Linked DNA regions of Homo sapiens: region 2 is linked to region 1. A link means that fine-mapping ties the variant in region 1 to the expression of a gene that starts in the linked region. Tissue or cell type: aorta. Region 1 holds a variant in brackets; the other region holds the start of a gene. All regions are shown on one strand. Distances are between the middles of the regions.

Region 1 (8,178 bases):
AGAACACCTCCAGAAATAACTCAATTCACGCCATGCAGATGCAGTTGTATACCGCAGAGACAAACAAGAAGGATTGTCAAACTGGGGCAACCTCTGCCAACGCTCCAAATTCCGGTTCACACAAGAGTCATTGCACTGGAGAGAAAACCCATAAATGCCCCGAATGTGGGAGAGCCTTTTTTTATCAGTCATTCCTTATGAGACATATGAAAATTCACACTGGAGAGAAACCGTATGAATGTGGGAAATGTGGGAAAGCCTTTAGATATTCCTTACACCTTAATAAACATTTAAGAAAGCATGTTGTGCAGAAGAAGCCCTACGAATGTGAAGAATGTGGGAAAGTCATTCGGGAGTCCTCAAAATATACACATATAAGGAGCCACACTGGAGAGAAACCCTATAAATGTAAGACATGTGGAAAAGACTTTGCAAAGTCGTCAGGACTTAAAAAACATCTTAAGACTCACAAAGATGAGAAGCCCTGTGAATGAAAGGAAGGTGGAAAATTTTTCATTAATTTTCTGACTGTACCAAACATGTGAGGAGGACATATTGGAAGGGAGCTCAAGGGGTTAGCATGAGTGAGAACATCTTCCCTGAACTCTCGTATCTTACAGAAATGTGAAAAAAAACCCTGTGAAGGTAAAGTCTACAGAAAGCCTTTCATCTTCATTCATCTTGAGTAGACATTTGTTCTCACCCTGGAGAGAAACTGCGAATCTAAAAGGAATATGACAAAGCCTTCAGCGTGGTCTCAAATTCATGGTTCATACAAGAACTCACACTGCAGAGACTCCTTACGGAAATAAAAAATGTAGGAAAGACCTGCCGGCCGCGGTGGCTCATGCCTGTAATCCCAGCACTTTGGGAGGCCGAGGCGGGCGGATCACGAGGTCAGGAGATCAAGACCATCCTGGCTAACACGGTGATACCCCGTCTCTACTAAAAATACAAAAAAAATTAGCCAGGCGTGGTGGCAGGTGCCTGTAGTCCCAGCTACTTGGGAGGCTGAGGTAGGAGAATGGTGTAAACCTGGGAGGTGGAGCTTGCAGTGAGCCGAGATGGAGCCACTGCACTCCAGCCTGGGGGAAAGAGCGAGACTCCGTCTCAAAAAAAAAAAAAAGTAGGAAAGACCTCTTTAAACACTTACCACTCATGTTGCATGTGAATCCACATCCTGAAGGGAGGCTACAACTGGAATAAAAATAAGAAAGCTTTCAAGGCCTGGTGCAGTGACTCACACCTGTAATCCTAGCACTTTGGGAGTCCAAGGTGGGGGATTGCTTGAGTCCAGGAGTTTGAGACCAGCCTGGGCAACATGGAGAAACCCCATCTCTACAAAAAAAAAAAAAAAAATGCAAAAATTAACCAGGAGTGGTAGCACATGCCTGTAGTCCCAGCTACCTGGGGAGCTGAGGCAGGAGGATCGCTTGAGCCTGGGAGCTTGAGGCAGCAGTGAGCTGTGTTTGCACCACTGCACTCCACCCTGGGTGACAAAGTGACACCCTGTCTCAAAAAAAAAAAGAAAGCTTTCAGGTCCAGCCTTTCACTTAGGCACAATGAGCGCACAGTAGGACTGAAACACTGTAAATGTTCATGATTTTCCAGTTTTTCCTTTCTAAAAAAAAAAATGCTACAAGATGAAGGATATCCCTCTTTGCACACTCCCAGCTCTGCCACATAAATGTTGGTATATAGCAGGTTCATTATAACTCACATACACGTGGTCTCATTTTCAATGTGAAGCCTTCTTTGAGCCTCATTCAATTTAGACTTGGGATTCATATACTCCATGATACCATTTTTGTCTTATTGGTCACTGTTCAACTGCATTATGGTCAGAGTATGTGGTCTTTCTGGTACCAACTTGGGTTACTTGTTATGACTTTGTCAGTCTAATGTGCCCTATTCTGTCAACTTCCCTGCCACCTCCATTCTTCTCATCTTCTTTACTAAGGGCACATAGATTCACTTTCCACAATGAGCACTATTTAATGTCTTATTTTTATTTTTATTTTATTTATGTATGTATTTATTTTGAGACAGAGTCTTGCTCTGTCACCCAGGCTGGAGAGCAGTGGGGCAATCTCGACTTACTGCAACCTCTGCCTCCTGGGCTCAAGTGATTCTCCTGCCTCACCCTCCCGAGTAGCTGGGATTACAGACACCCACCACCACGCCCAGCTAATTTTTCTATTTTTAGTAGAGACGAGATTTCACCACGCTGGCCAGGCTGGTCTCAAACTCCTGACCTCAAGTGACCTGCCTGCCTTGGCCTCCCAAAGTGCTGGGATTACAGGCATAAGCCACTGTGCCCGGCCTCTTTTCAATCTTTTAAAAGTTGGGAAACGGCCGGGCATGTTGGCTCATGCCTGTCACCCCAGCACTTTGGGAGGCCAAGGTGGGCGGATCGCCTGAGGTGAGGAGTTCGAGACCAGCCTGACCAACATGGAGAAACCCCATCTCTACTAAAAATATAAAATTAGCCAGGTGTGGTGGCTCACGCCTGTAATCCCAACTACTCAGGAGGCTGAGGCAGGAGAATTGCTTGCATCTGGGAGGCGGAGGTTGCGGTGAGCCGAGATTGTGCCATTGCACTCCAGCCTGGGCAACAAGAGTGAAACTTATCTCAAAAAAAGTAAAAATAAAAATAATAAAAAATAAAAGTTGGGAAATATGACTACCTGAAAATGCATGAAAATGTACATATACATTTTTTTTTTCGAGATGGAGTTTTGTTCTTGTTGCCCAAGCTGGAGTGCAGTGGCGTGATCTCCGCTTACTGCAACCTCTGCCTCCCAGGTTCAAGTGATTCTCCTGCCTCAGCCTCCTGAGTAGCTGAGATTACAGGCACCTGCCACCACGACATTTCAAAGTTAATAAAGTGATCACCCTTATACCCACCATCCAAGCCCGTAAACAGCTCATCATTAAACACCAGGCAATTCACGTCTGTGCCTCACAGACGACATCTCCAGCCCCAAGAGGAAACCGCCATGGTTCATTTTGTATCATTCGCCCCCCTCGCTCATCTTTATGTTTGCAGCTATGCAGAAATCCCCAAATACCCTGTTTTCTAGTTTCGATGATGTTTATGCTGCGTATGATGGCATGGCATAGAATATTTCTTTGTGCCTTGCTTCTTTCAGGAAAAGAAAAGCTAAGCAGGTAGGGTGCAGGTGGCATTCATTCTTTCTTAGTTATATTCATTCCAGAGACCCTGGATCTGTATCTCACTTTAGAGATTATAAACATGCTGCTAACACCAATTTTGCAAAGCCCTCCCAATGAGCATTTTATGAAAGTCATTCTTGGCCGGGCGTGGTGGCTCACGCCTGTAATCCCAGCACTTTGGGAGGCCGAGGCAGGTGGATCACTTGAGGTCAGGGTTCAAGACCAGCCTGGCCAATGTGGTGAAACCCCGTCTCTACTAAAAATACAAAAATTAGTCAGGCATGGTGGCATGCACCTGTAGTCCCAGCTACTCAGGAGGCTGAGGCAGGAGAATTATTTGAGCCCAAGAGGCGGAGGTTGCAGTGAGCCGAGATCGTGCCACTGCACTCCAGCCTGGGCAACAGACAGAGTGAGACTCTGTCTCAAAAAAAAAAAAAATAGGCCGGGCGCGGTGGCTCATGCCTGTAATCCCAGCACTTTGGGAGGCCGGGGTGGGTGGATCACTTGAGGTCAGGAGTTCGGGACCAGCCTGGCCAACATGGCGAAACCCCATCTCTACTAAAAATACAAAACTTAGCCAGGCATGGTGCAGACATCTGTAATCCCAGCTACTTGGGAGGCTGAGGCAGGAGAATCACTTGAACAAGGGAGGCAGCGGTTGCAGTGAGCTGAGACTGCGCCACTGCACTCCCGTCTGGGCGACGGAGCGAGATTTCGTCTCCAAAAAAAAAGGAAAAGAAAAGAGAAACGCCACTGGTAAGAGCAGAGGTCCTCCTAGGCGCGCATTCTGCATGGCCCCAGCACTGTTAAGTTCAGCTTTCAGTGTTTGGGGAAGACCTGCAGGTCAGGGACCCCCACTGTGGCTGAGGGGGCTCAAGCTTGGCCCTTTCTCCCGGACCCCTGCTGCCTGCGTTTCCCAGCAATCTGCTGCTTTATCCTAGAATCTGGGTGACTCATGGCCCTCCCCATCCTGGAAGGAATGAAGAGGAGGAGGGGAGGCTGCTATGCCAGGACAGTCCCAGACCTTGCCAAGGGGCCTGGGTCCACTCCCACCCCCAGGGAGCGCTGTGCGGAGGAAAAGGACCATGGCTGAAATCAGAATCCCTGGATTCAACCGGGGGTGGAGGGGGCCGGGGCGGGAGGGGGGAAACATCTGTAGCTGAGGGAACACCCCTCCCGCCTCCAGTCGCTGAGGCTGAACTTAGCCGACTTTGGGGATTCCCCACCCTCTACCCCCAACTGGTCCTCAATTCTCACAGATGTAAACTGAGAATTTTCAACAATCGTTTTGGCAAACATACGCCAGGCCCCCTTCTGAGCGCTTTGCACCTATTAACTCATGCAACGCCTGCAAC[G/C]CTATGAAGTGGCTGCTGTTATCACTACCATTTTACAGTGGGGGGAACTGAGGCACAGCGAGGCCAAGCACGATGCCCAAGATCACACAGCCAGCAGGTGGCCGGGAGGGGCTCGACCCCGTGCTGTCAGGCACCAGAGACTCGGCTCTTCAGCCCCAGGCCAGAGCCTCCCTGCACTGACGGGGTCGCGAATTCGGGCAGGAGGGTTCGTGTGTGTCCTCACCTCTGGGACGCGAGCTCCGGGGACGGGGGACCTCGTCTGGCGTGGGAGGCATTTAGTGAGCGCCGTGGACTGAAGCCGGGACGGTCTTAGGAGAACCACTTCCCTTCTTGGCCGCCTGAAACCCCCTACAGGGTTCTGCTTCTGGAACTGCATTCGAGGTCAGAGTTTCTAGTACGAGTAAAGCGGATCCTCGGGAAGAGACCCGACCAGAAGGAAATCGCCGTCTTGGAAGATCTAAGTCCGGGATGGAACAAAACCCACTCCGGGCGGGGGGAGCGCGCCACCTGGCGGCGGATCCTGCTAAGGCAGCGCCGCCCGGAGACCAGAAACGTTGGATTTGGGCAGTGGGCCGAGGTGGTTGGAATTGGCGAATGGGCAGTTGTCTGAAAATCATTGTGTGAAACTAAGGACTGTCTACCAGTGGCTTCCAAAATTCTGACGCACAGTAAGAAATCATTTTGCGTCAGCATTTTTTTTTTTTTTTTTTTGAGACAAGGTCTTGCTCTGTTGCCCAGGTTGGAATGCAGTGGCACGATCTCGGCTCACTGCAAACTCCACTTCCAGGGTTCAAGCGATTCTCCTGCCTCAGCCTCCTGAGTAGCTGAGATTACAGGCGCCCGTCACCGCGCCTGGCTAATTTTTTATTTTTAGTAGAGATGGGGTTTTACAATGTTAGCCAGGCTGGTCTCGAATTCCTGGCCTCAAGTGATCTGCCCGCCTCGGCCTCCCAAAGTGCTGGGATTGCAGGCATGAGCCACCGTGCCTGGCCGCATCAGCATACTTTTACAAAAGAATACCACCCTCTATAGCCAACAACAATGGATTGTATACTTCAAAATAGCTAGAACATTTTGCATGTTTCACCGCAAAGAAATGGCAAGCATCTGGGATGATGGATTTGCTAATAACCTTGATTTGATCACTGCACAATTTATATATGTATCAAAACATCACGCCGCATCCTATAAATATGTACAATTAAAAACAAAATTTAGGCCGGCTGCAGTGGCTCATGCCTGTAATCCCAGCACTTTGGGAGGCCGAGGTGGGTGGATCACCAGGTCAGGAGTCCCAGACCAGTCTGGCCAAGATGGTGAAACCCCATCTCTACTTAAAAAAAAAAAAAAAAAAAAATTTGCTAGGTATGGTGGCGGGCACCTGTAATCCCAGCTACTAGGGAGGCTGAGGCAAAGAACTACTTTAACCCGGGAGGCAGAGGTTACAGTGAGCCGAGATCGCGCCACTGCACTCCAGCCTGGGTGACAGGGCGAGACTCCGTCTCAAAAAAAAGAAAATTTTAGTTTTAAAAATACCACCCTGTATTACACGGCCCTGTATTACACGATGCTTTATATTCCACTCTATTCCTTTTTTTTTTTTGAGACAGAGTGTCACTCTATCACCCAGGCATGATCTCGGCTCACTGCAACCTCTGTCCCCCAGGTTCAAGCAATCCTCCTGCCTCAGCCTCCCTCAGCCTCCTGAGTAGCTGGGATTACAGGCTCCCGCCATCATGCCCAGCTAATTTTTGCATTTTTAGTAAAGACGGGGTTTCACCATGTTGGCCAGGCTGGTCTCGAACTCCTGTCCTCAGGTGATCCGCCTGCCTCAGCCCCCCAAGGTGCTGTGATTACAGGCATGAGCCACCAGGCCCGGCCTATTCCTATTTTTAAATGCTGGTCAGGTCACCTTAAAATGGTTTCCTGACTCTCTAAGGGTCTGGGATAGGGTTTTCCACTGTTCTAGATTATCCCCATGTTTTTTCACTTGACAGAGATTATGATGAGGAACCGGTTACACCCACGCTACCTCCCAGTGAGCCTTCCCCACCACACAAAGCTGCCTCCAGGATTCGCTGCCAGCTCTGATGTCAGGATGAGTAACAGCTCAGGATGCTGAAGACACTGGCCCAAGACCACACAGCCTGGATGTGGCAGTGCCTGTTTCTGCCTCACTCCTGGAGGAGGAAAATGATTAAATACCCGTAATTTCACTGCTATTGAGTACAATTTAATTCATCCTTCCTCCACTTTGGCTGATAAGATTGAGCTGCACTCACCTGCTGTTCTCTTAGGCTGTAGCATAAGGCATTCCAGAGGTCAAACTTTAAAATGTCTTTTTCACTTTGGGAGGCCAAGGCGGGAGGATCACTGGAGGCCAGGAGTTCGAGACCAGCCTGGCCAACATGGTGAAACCTCCATCTCTACAAAAAATACAAAAATTAGCCGGGCGTGGTGGCACACATCTGTAGTCCCAGCTGCTCAGGAGGCTGAGGCATGAGAATCACTTGAACCTGGGAGGTGGAGGCTGGAGTGAGCCAAGATTGCACCACTGCACTCCAGCCTGGGCAACAGAGCAAGACCCTGTCTCAAAAAAATAAAAAATCAAAAATCTAGGTTGAATTCTCAGGTGTCTCTAAAGTGGCCTTCGATGTATTCTGCGCTGGGTGCTGCAGGGTTGACCATCTAAAAGTGGCGAGCCCAGCCCCAGTCCAGGGGAAGGTAGAGGAAGTGAACCTGCTCATTGTAGGACTAGGACCCTTGAGGTGACAGAGAGCTGTGGTTAGCCTGAGTCCATCGCACTGTGGTGGTCTATGAGGCCGCTTTGCAGGGGCAGCAAATCAGAAGGCTCGGTCTGCTGTGCTTACTCTGCTATCTTTGGAAGGAAAGAGGAGGAAATCGCTCCGAAATGGGAGATAGGGCTGGTGGTCACGACTCAGCTCCACACCAAGATGAGACTTCCTGGGCCCCCAGGGAGGAAGAATAGCAGTTCCACTGCCAGGAGCCACGCCTCAGAGGAGCTGCCTTTCCACCTCCCTCCTGAAATGCCATTTTCAAATTTCTCCTTTACTCTTCCATCCCCAGAACCTAGTACAATATATGGCACATAGTACATGCTCAATAAATATTTATCAAATTAATGAGAAAAGATATGTGGATGTCCCCTCCTGTGCAGCTGTAAGGGGAGAAATAGAGTTCTTTTTTTTTTTTTTTAACTTTCCTACACCAGTTTTATTTAAAACACAAAAATAAGTATTTCTCTTTCTGTAAGGAAAAATGGCTCAAATATTGCTGAACACAGGCCAGACTCAGTGGCTCACGCCTGTATTCCCAGCACTTTGGGAGGTCGAGGTAGGAGCACACTTGAGGTCAGGGGTTCGAGACCAGCCTGGCCAACACGGTGAAACCCCCATCTCAAATACAAAAAAAAAAAATTAGCCAGGCATGGTGGCAGGTGCCTGTAATCCCAGCTACTTGGGAGGCTGAGGCAGGAGAACTGCTTGAACCCAGGAGGCGGAGATTGCAGTGAGCTGAGATTGTGCCACTGCACTCCAGCCTGGGCGACAGAGCGAGACTCCGTCTCAAAAATAAATAAATAAATAAATAAATAGAAAGAAAACACTACACTCCTTTCCATCTTTAT
Region 2 (8,162 bases), 31 kb after region 1:
TAACCACACCAGTCCTGTTTTTGAATGCCTGGGACTGTGCTAAAGCAGCAAACATCTATGTTTCCACTGAACACAACTCTACCAGATGGATGCTTTCAATAGCCCCGATTTTTTTTTTTTTTTGAGACAGAGTCTTGCTCTGTCAACCAGGCTGGAGTGCAGCGGCGCGATCTTGGCTCACTGAAACCTCTGCCCCCCGGGTTTAAACGATTCTCCTGGCCGAGCACAGTGGCTCACGCCTGTAATCTCAGCACTTTGGGAGGCCGAGGTGGGCGGATCACAAGGTCAGGAGATCAAGACCATCTTGGCTAACACAGTAAAATCCTGTCTCTACTAAAAATACAAAAAAAGTAGCCAGGCCTGGTGGTGGGCACCTGTAGTCCCAGCTACTCGGGAAGCTGAGGCAGGAGAATAGCATGAACCTGGGAGGCGAAGCTTGCAGTGAGCCGAGATTGTGCCAATGCACTCCAGCCTGGGCGACAGAGCAAGACTCCGTCTCAAAAACAAAACAAAAGAAAAACTATTCTCCTGCTTCAGCCTCTCGAGTAGCTGGGATTACAGGCATGTGCCACCATGCCTGGCTAATTTTTGTATTTTTTGTAGAGATGGGGTTTCACCACGTTGGCCAGGCTGGTCTTGAACTCCTGACCTCAAGTGATCTGCCCGCCTCAGCCTCCCAATGTGCTGGGATTACAGGCATGAGCCACTGTGCCCGGCCTAATAGCCCCAATTTCACATGAGGAAGCTAAGGCTCAGGGAGGTTACAACACTTGCCCGTAAGCAGGATCCGTAGAACCACCTCTCAAACCCCACCTGCTTGTCCAGGGCCCTGGTCTGCTCCTGCAGCTCCTCGATCTCCGCCTGCACCTGGGCCCGGCCCTTCAGCAGGCGGTCCATGTTCTCCAGCCGCTGACTGTCCCGAAGCCGCTTGACCTGGTTCTGGGCTGCGCTGATCTGCACCTGGAGATCGCCCCGTACCTCCTCCAAGCGCCGGATCTCCTCACTACCCAGGCAGGGAGGTGGAAGAGGGGCCAGTAAGGGGGCAGAACTCAGCATCACTAAAGGCAGGACCCAGGAGTCCAGTCTTCAGCCCCTCTGACCCCCTCCTCCCCAGCTCAGGGCCCAGGCGCCCAGCTCACAGTTGCTTGTTGATGCGCTGGTGGACTTCCTTGCTGTAGGCCCGCCTCTCCCCTTCCATCACTTTGCATTGTCGCTGCAGCCTACTCAGCTCCCAATCCACTGAGAACAGGGCCAGCCAAGGGACTCAGCAGGGATCCTGGCCACCAGCTCCTCCCAACCCAGGACCTAGGAATTCTGCTCCCTTTGGGGTCTCACAAACTGCAACTGAACTGCAGATCCAGCCCCCAACACCCCTCTAGGAATGCACCTCAGTTCCGGGATCCCTCGAGCTTCCTCATCCCTTCATACCCAAAACTGAACTCAGGGTTTTTTTCCCCTAAAACCCACTCCCATCCCACCAGAGGGCACTTCTGGAAGGCCTCTGGGTCTTCTGGGACCTGGGCACACCACCTGGAATTGGGAAGGCTCTTGCTCCCTCCCTCCTTTTCTGCCCCACCATCAGCAGCCCTCAGCCCCATCCTCTTGCCTCCTCCCTCTCTCAACCCATCCCCTGGGCTCAGCCTCATCCTCTCCTACCTGGACCATCACCCCAACCTTTCTCTCAACTTCCAGCCTTCCTGCACAGTCCCAGAGGGTCTCTCTACACCCACAGCCAACCCTACCCCACCCACAGCAGACCCTACCCCTCATAGGCCTCCCATGATGCCCCAGTACCTGCAGGACAAAGTCTCAGCACCTCAGCCTGGGATCCCAGACCCCAAGTGACCTGACCTTACCCACCTCTCCAGTCTTGCCCGTATGCTCCCCATCTCCAAAGGCCCAGTAGTTTTCAATCAGCGGGTGATTCTGCCTTCCAAAAACATTTGGCAATGTCTGGAGACTTATTTTTTTCTAGACAGGGTCTCGCTCTGTCCCCCAGGCTCTAGCGCAGTGGCACAATCTCAGCTCACTGCAGCCTCCACCTCGCAGGCTCAAGTGATCCGCCCACCTCAGCCTCCCGAGTAGCTGGGATTATGGGTGCACGCCATCACACCTGGCTAATTTTATTTTATTTTTGTAGAGATGAGGTCTCACTGTGTTGCTCAGGCTGGTCTTGAACTCCTGGGCTCAAGTGATCCTCCTTCCTCAGCTTCCCAAAGTGCTGGGATTACAGGCATGAGCCAGCATGCTCAGCCTAGAGACATTTGTCATTGTCATGACTTGTGGAGAAGGGAGGGGGCTACTGGTATCCAGTGAGTAGAAGCCATGGACACTGCTTGGCATCCTACGACACACAGGACTGCCCCCACAACAAAGAATTATCCCACCCCAAGAGTCAACAGTACCAAGGTTGAGAAAGCCTACTCTAGCCACATTCTGTCATCTCTGTAGAAACACCCTTCCTTCCTTCTCCCCTTGGCAATTCCTACAGGGAGTTCTGGGCCCCACTCAAACTTCTGCTGCCTGAAGTCTCCAGCCTGCCCCACTGCCCAGGCTTGGCCCACCCACCGTGGTGCCCGCCCCGCCTCCCTTAGGGCGCATGTCTGTTCCCACCAGAGGGCGCTCCTGGACAGACACTCTCCCTCCCTCCCTACAGGACCTGGAACTTGGGAAAGCTGGGGGCTGGAAAAGAATGGGTGAATGATATAAAGAATGAATGAATTACCCATTCCCTCCAGAAATGCCTCGCTTCCCTCCTCGGAGCGGGCGCTCCCTGCCAAGCGTCCCAAAGGCATCCTGGCCAAACAGGGTGGGGCTCCTGTAGGGATGGACATATAAGACCCTTCAGACAGCAGGCGGGCCAGGGCCCAGAGAGGGTGGACAATGAACTGCGAGGGACTGGGAATTGAAAGGGGGTGACCCTAGAACCACGCTGGCCTCATTCCTCCAAGAGGGGTTGGAGGGGGACCTCTCTCAGGCCTCTCCCACACCTCTCCAGCCCTCCCACCTCTCACACTCTGGGTCTTGCGTCTAGGCTCCGATTCTGGCGCGGGTTTGGCAGGGGACAGGCCTCCTGGGCTCTCAGGATATCTGAGGCCAGGCTGTTTGGTCGCAGGAGAGGGGGAAACCCCGGCCTGCTGTAGTGGGGGTTGGGCAGGGTCGGGGGAGTCCTGGGCCCTACCTGCCGACGGGCCTGACCTGTTCTTGGTGCTCCAAGTTCAGTGTTGTGGTCTGGTTACTGGGGAGATAAGGGACCAATGAGGACTGAGGACAGCGGCCAGGGAGGGACTGAGGCCGCGGGAGAAACTATGGGAGGAGGGGCGGAGAAGGATGCGAGGCGTAGACCTGCAGGGTTCCCACGGACTGAGAACTGATGGGCAAGGCCAGGCGCGGTGGCTCACGCCTGCAATCCCAGCATTTTGGGAGGCCGAGGCGGGCGCATCACTTGAGGTCACGAGTTCGAGACCAACCTGGCCAACATGGTGAAACCCCGTCTCTACTAAAAGTACAAAAAATTAGCCGGACATGGCGGCTCGTGCCTGTAATCCCAGCTACTCAGGAGGCTGGGGCAGGAGAATCGCTTGAACCCGGGAGGCGGAGGTTGCAGTGAGCCGAGATCCCGCCACTGCACTCCAGCCTGGGCGACAGAGCGAGACTCCGTCTCAAAAAACAAACAAACAAACAAACAAAACTGATGGGCGGCGAGGTCCTGAAAGGGGCGGAGCCGGGAGGGCCTGTGGAGCGGTGCTGCGGAGCCCTGAGAGGTGCACGGCTGTGAGGCCTGAGAGGGGCGTGCCGTAGGGAGCTGTGATGGGCGGGGCTGAGACCTGTGAGGAGAGTGAGTGGGAAGAACTTCGAGGGGCGGGGCTTCGGGGCCGGCGAGGGGAGGGGCACGGACACCAGTACAGGACGGGGCTTCGCAGACAGCGAGCGGAGGGGCTTCCCCGTAAGGGGCGGGCTTCGAGGGTCGCGTTTGGAAGGCCTTACGAGGGGCCCGGTGGAAGGGCGGTGAAGGGCGGGCTAATCGGGAGGCGCTCAGGCCTTGAAGGCCTGCGGGAGGTCGAAATGGTCCTGGGGAGGTCGAGGCTGAGGTCTCACTAGTACCGCGGGCCTGGAAGCGGCGGGAGTTGAAAGAGCCTGCGGTGACCTGTATGGAAGCCCTCGAAGCCAGGCCGAGGTCCTACAAGACGGAGCCCGAGAGGTGCCGGTCTTAAGCTGACTGTGACCACGTTAAATTAAGGATTCATAGGAAGGAAGGCGGTGTCGAAGCCGGGAGTTGCGCGGAGAAGGAGCGCTCAACACAGCCTCAGCGGTTCACTACGCAAGCGCGACCAACGGCTTCCCGGGAAGCAGCCAAAAACGCTTGGCCGCCTACCACGTCCGCGCGCTGGAGGGCGGAAGTGGGTGAGACCTCGGGCACTCCATACCGCCCCCCGGTTTCTGGCCACGCCCCCTCTGGTTACACCCACTCGCTCTGTAAGGCACGCCCCCTCCGCGGCGGCGGCTGCTGCCCACGTGGGCCTCCCCGGGCGGGCGGGCAGTGGGCGCCTCTCCCTGCAGGCTGGGTGTGCCCGAAGCCTGCGGTTTCCTGTGGGAGGAAGCGGCCTGCGTACGCTCAGCTCAGCTCATAATCTCGGAGGCCCAGGATGGGGAGATCCCGCCGCCACCCTCAGATCCTTTGATTCTTCCCCTTCTACATAGCCATAGTGCGGGGACCCCCCTAATATCCCCAGGGTACCCAAGCCTGGCGCCGATCCCACTCAGGGAACTTGATTCTGAGTCCTAGACTCGTGTTTTTCACCTCCCCGGCTCAAGTTTCCATCTTCCTAGCCCCTGGCTCCCCCTAGTCCTCTCAAGAAAGTGGAGCCCTCTTTTCCTGCTCCCCAAGAGGAACGTATGTCTCCCCAGCCCCTAATTTTTCCTTCAGTGACCCAGACTTTGCAACTTCCTTAGGGATCTGAGTGCGGACCCCAGTTTCTGTCTCTCAGGCACTTAAGTTTGAGACTACTTATTCTCCCCCAGGGACCCTCATTTTGGATTCCCAACTTTAGCCTTGAGACCCAATGGACCCAAGAATTTGCCCCTTCCCCAACTCCTAGAGATCCTGAATCAGGGTCCCCCAGTACTGACTCCACTCAGAGCCCCAATGCCTGATATGACTAGCACTACCCTAAGAACTGCCCTATAATGTATTTACTATTATCTCTATTTTTCAGATGAAGAGACTGAGGCATAGAGAAGTTATTAGTAACTTGCCAAAAATTACACAGCCATTGAGTAAAACAGCTTGGATTTTGAGTCCAACCAGTGTGGCTCTAGAGTCTGTGCTATACTGGTATTCCAGCTTCCAGGTCTTGGGGTACCCAGCCAAGCACTGAACTGTCCATCCCTCACCCCCTCAGGGAGCCCGAATCACCAACAGCTATCCCAAACCCAGCTCTGGCCCATCAGATACCCAGACATCCCATCATCCAGTTCCCTTCCCTGGATCCAGGATTTGAATTCCCCTGCTCTCAATTTATCAGAGTTCTGGGCACCTGGTCCCCTCCCAAGAGACTCGTGTACATAGTAGTCATCACCCCGACCCTAATTTAATATCCCCAAAATTAATAATAATAGTTAACAGTAAACCTTTGGGGCCAGGCACAGTGTCTTACGCCTGTAATCCCATCATTTTGGGAGGCCAAGGCAGGCAGATCACTGGAGGTCAGGAGTTCGAGGCCAGCCTGGCCAACATGGAGAAACCCCCGTCTCTACTAAAAATACAAAAATTGGCTGGGCGTGGTGGCGGGCACCTGTAATCCCAGCTACTCAGGAGGCTGAGGCAGGAGAATCGCTTGAACCGGGAGGTGGAGGTTGCAGTGAGCTGAGATCATGCCACTGCACTCCAGCCTGGATGACAGAGCAAGACTCCATCTCAAAAAAAAAATAAAAATCTTTGGTACTACACTCTGTTAAAACCTAATGGCTTTCCACTGCACTTAGAATGAAATCCAAGCCCCTCCCCTAGTCTTCAAGGGCACCCTTTGATTTCCCTTCTCACCACTCCCTCTGTCTCCCTGTGCTCCAGCCACACTGGCCCTTCTGTCTGCTCCCTAAACAACCTGAGCTTGTTCTCAAAAGCTTTAAGAGCTTTTGCACTTCCTCTCCCCCCGACGCCCCCCCACCACTCCCCAACCCCAGCGTTCAAATGACTCCTGTCTTCAGCTCAAATGTTACCTCCTCCAAGAGGCCTTCCCTGATTTTCCTGTTTCAAGTAGTCTTCCCTGCACTCTGTCATTATCTCCATCACTCTGTTTGATTTATTATTGTATTTATTTTTCTTTTCTTCTTTTATTTTTTTTTTTCTTTAAGATGGAGTCTTGCTCTGTCACCCAGGATGGAGTGCAGTAGCGTGATTTCAGCTTACTGCAACCTCCGCCTCCCGGGTTCAAGCAATTCTCCTGTCTCAGCCTCCTGAGTAGCTGGGTTACAGGCGCCCACTACCATGCCTGGCTAATTTTTGTATTTTTAGTAGAGACAGGGTTTCACCATGTTGGCCAGGCTGGTCTTGAACTCTCGACCTCAGGTGATCCTCCAGCCTTGGCCTCCCAAAGTGCTGAGATTACAGGCATGAGCCACCACGTCCAGCCTATTGTATTTATTTTTCAAGTCACTTATCCTTATCTGAGATTTATCTTCATCATTGATGTTTTCTCTTGTCTGTCTTCCTCTACTAGAATACAAGCTCCATAATACCAGCAGGGCTCATGTCTGTTTTCATTATTAACTCCCAGATCAGAGTACATGTTCAATAAATGTTTGATGAAGGAAGGAACAGGTTAGGTGTGTGAGTGTGCCAGTATTACCTTATTCATTCAGCATAAGTATCAGAATTATTATTATCAGTATTAGTATTTTGTCAGCATTATTATACTCTCAACATAGACTAAGATACTGGAGCCCAGGTGGGTGAAATAATTGGCTCAAGGTCACTGAACCAGGAAATGATGGCGCTGGGATTCTTAGCTTCCGCTTCCTCCCCGCTTCCAGAGTTTCACAAGGTTTTTTTTTTTGTTTGTTTGTTTTTTGTTTTGTTTTGTTTTTTTTTTGCGACAGAATCTCACTTTGTCCCCCAGGTTGGAAGGCAGTGGTGCAAACTCAACTCACTGCAGCCTCCACCTCTCGCGTTCAAGCGATTCTCATGGCTCAGCCTCCCAAGTAGCTGGGATTACAGTCGCCCGCCACCACGCCCGGCTAATTTTTGTATTTTTGATAGAGACGGGTTTCCACCATGTTGGCCAGGCTGGTCTCGAACTCCTGACCTCAGATGATCTGCCCGTCTCGGCCTCCCAAAGTGCTGGGATTACAGGCGTGAGCCACAACGCCCTGCCGAGTTTCACAAATTTCATCTCCCATCCTCTGACCCCCCACCACGGGGCCAACTTCACCAGCCCAATCTCAAGTCCATGCCACAGAAATCTGGCCTCTTTTCCCAGACTCCTATCCAGCTCCAAGCTCCATCAGGGAAAGCAGACATCCGGCCCCAGGGCAAGACCTCAAAACTCAAGGGTCCTGAGAATCGGGCCCTCCCACCCCTGACGCTTGCCCCCCCCAAGAACCCCATTCCAAGAGTTTCTCATCTCAACCCTGGGAGGGAGCCCCAGATGATGTCTGTCTGGAGGGATTGGGTGGGGGCCCAAAGAAAGAGGAACCGGAGTGCCTGGGCCCTCCCACTGGCAGCCGACCTCAGCTGGGTGCGGTGAGGGTGGGTTTATAAAAGGGTCAGTATATATTGAGAGGAGGAGAGAAAGAGAAACGGGAGCAAGAGAGAAGGAGGCCCAGACAGTGAGGGCAGGAGGGAGAGAAGAGACGCAGAAGGAGAGCGAGCGAGAGAGAAAGGGTTCTGGATTGGAGGGGAGAGCAAGGGAGGGAGGAAGGCGGTGAGAGAGGCGGGGGCCTCGGGAGGGTGAAAGGAGGGAGGAGAAGGGCGGGGCACGGAGGCCCGAGCGAGGGACAAGACTCCGACTCCAGCTCTGACTTTTTTCGCGGCTCTCGGTAAGTTTCCAGTCCGTTATTCAGGGCTGGGACTTCTTAATTTACTTGGGAATGTAGCAGTTTGGGAAGGACACCCCCAGGCTGGGAGAGACGTCCCTGACTCTTGGAAATCCTTTTAATTTAAT

What was found. PIP is the estimated chance that this variant, and not a neighbour inherited with it, causes the effect.
Region 2: it holds the start of ODAD1, and the variant in region 1 is fine-mapped to the expression of ODAD1 in aorta (GTEx, PIP 0.90).

Annotation. Positions count from the first base shown.
Region 1 is chr19:48,286,385-48,294,562 of GRCh38, forward strand. ZNF114 (zinc finger protein 114) reads left to right here. Exons shown (of 6, transcript NM_153608.4): 6 at 1-1,224. The coding sequence ends at 494. Among named protein-coding and RNA genes, the nearest start is that of ZNF114-AS1, 19 kb to the left of the region's middle. RefSeq lists enhancers at 4,753-4,802, 4,823-4,872, 4,990-5,638. The variant G/C (reference allele first, on the strand shown) is at 4,533.
Region 2 is chr19:48,317,574-48,325,735 of GRCh38, forward strand. ODAD1 (outer dynein arm docking complex subunit 1) reads right to left here and starts at 4,398. Exons shown (of 16, transcript NM_001364171.2): 1 at 4,105-4,398; 2 at 3,199-3,238; 3 at 2,726-2,818; 4 at 1,140-1,239; 5 at 814-1,003. The coding sequence starts at 2,795. EMP3 (epithelial membrane protein 3 (MAM blood group)) reads left to right here and starts at 7,979. Exons shown (of 5, transcript NM_001425.3): 1 at 7,979-8,037. LOC124904735 (a long non-coding RNA gene) reads left to right here and starts at 3,895. Exons shown (of 2, transcript XR_007067284.1): 1 at 3,895-4,404; 2 at 5,217-5,949. RefSeq lists enhancers at 2,439-2,733, 4,013-4,252, 4,259-4,553, 4,773-4,832, 4,843-4,902 and 1 more and silencers at 3,783-3,902, 4,373-4,662, 6,994-7,225.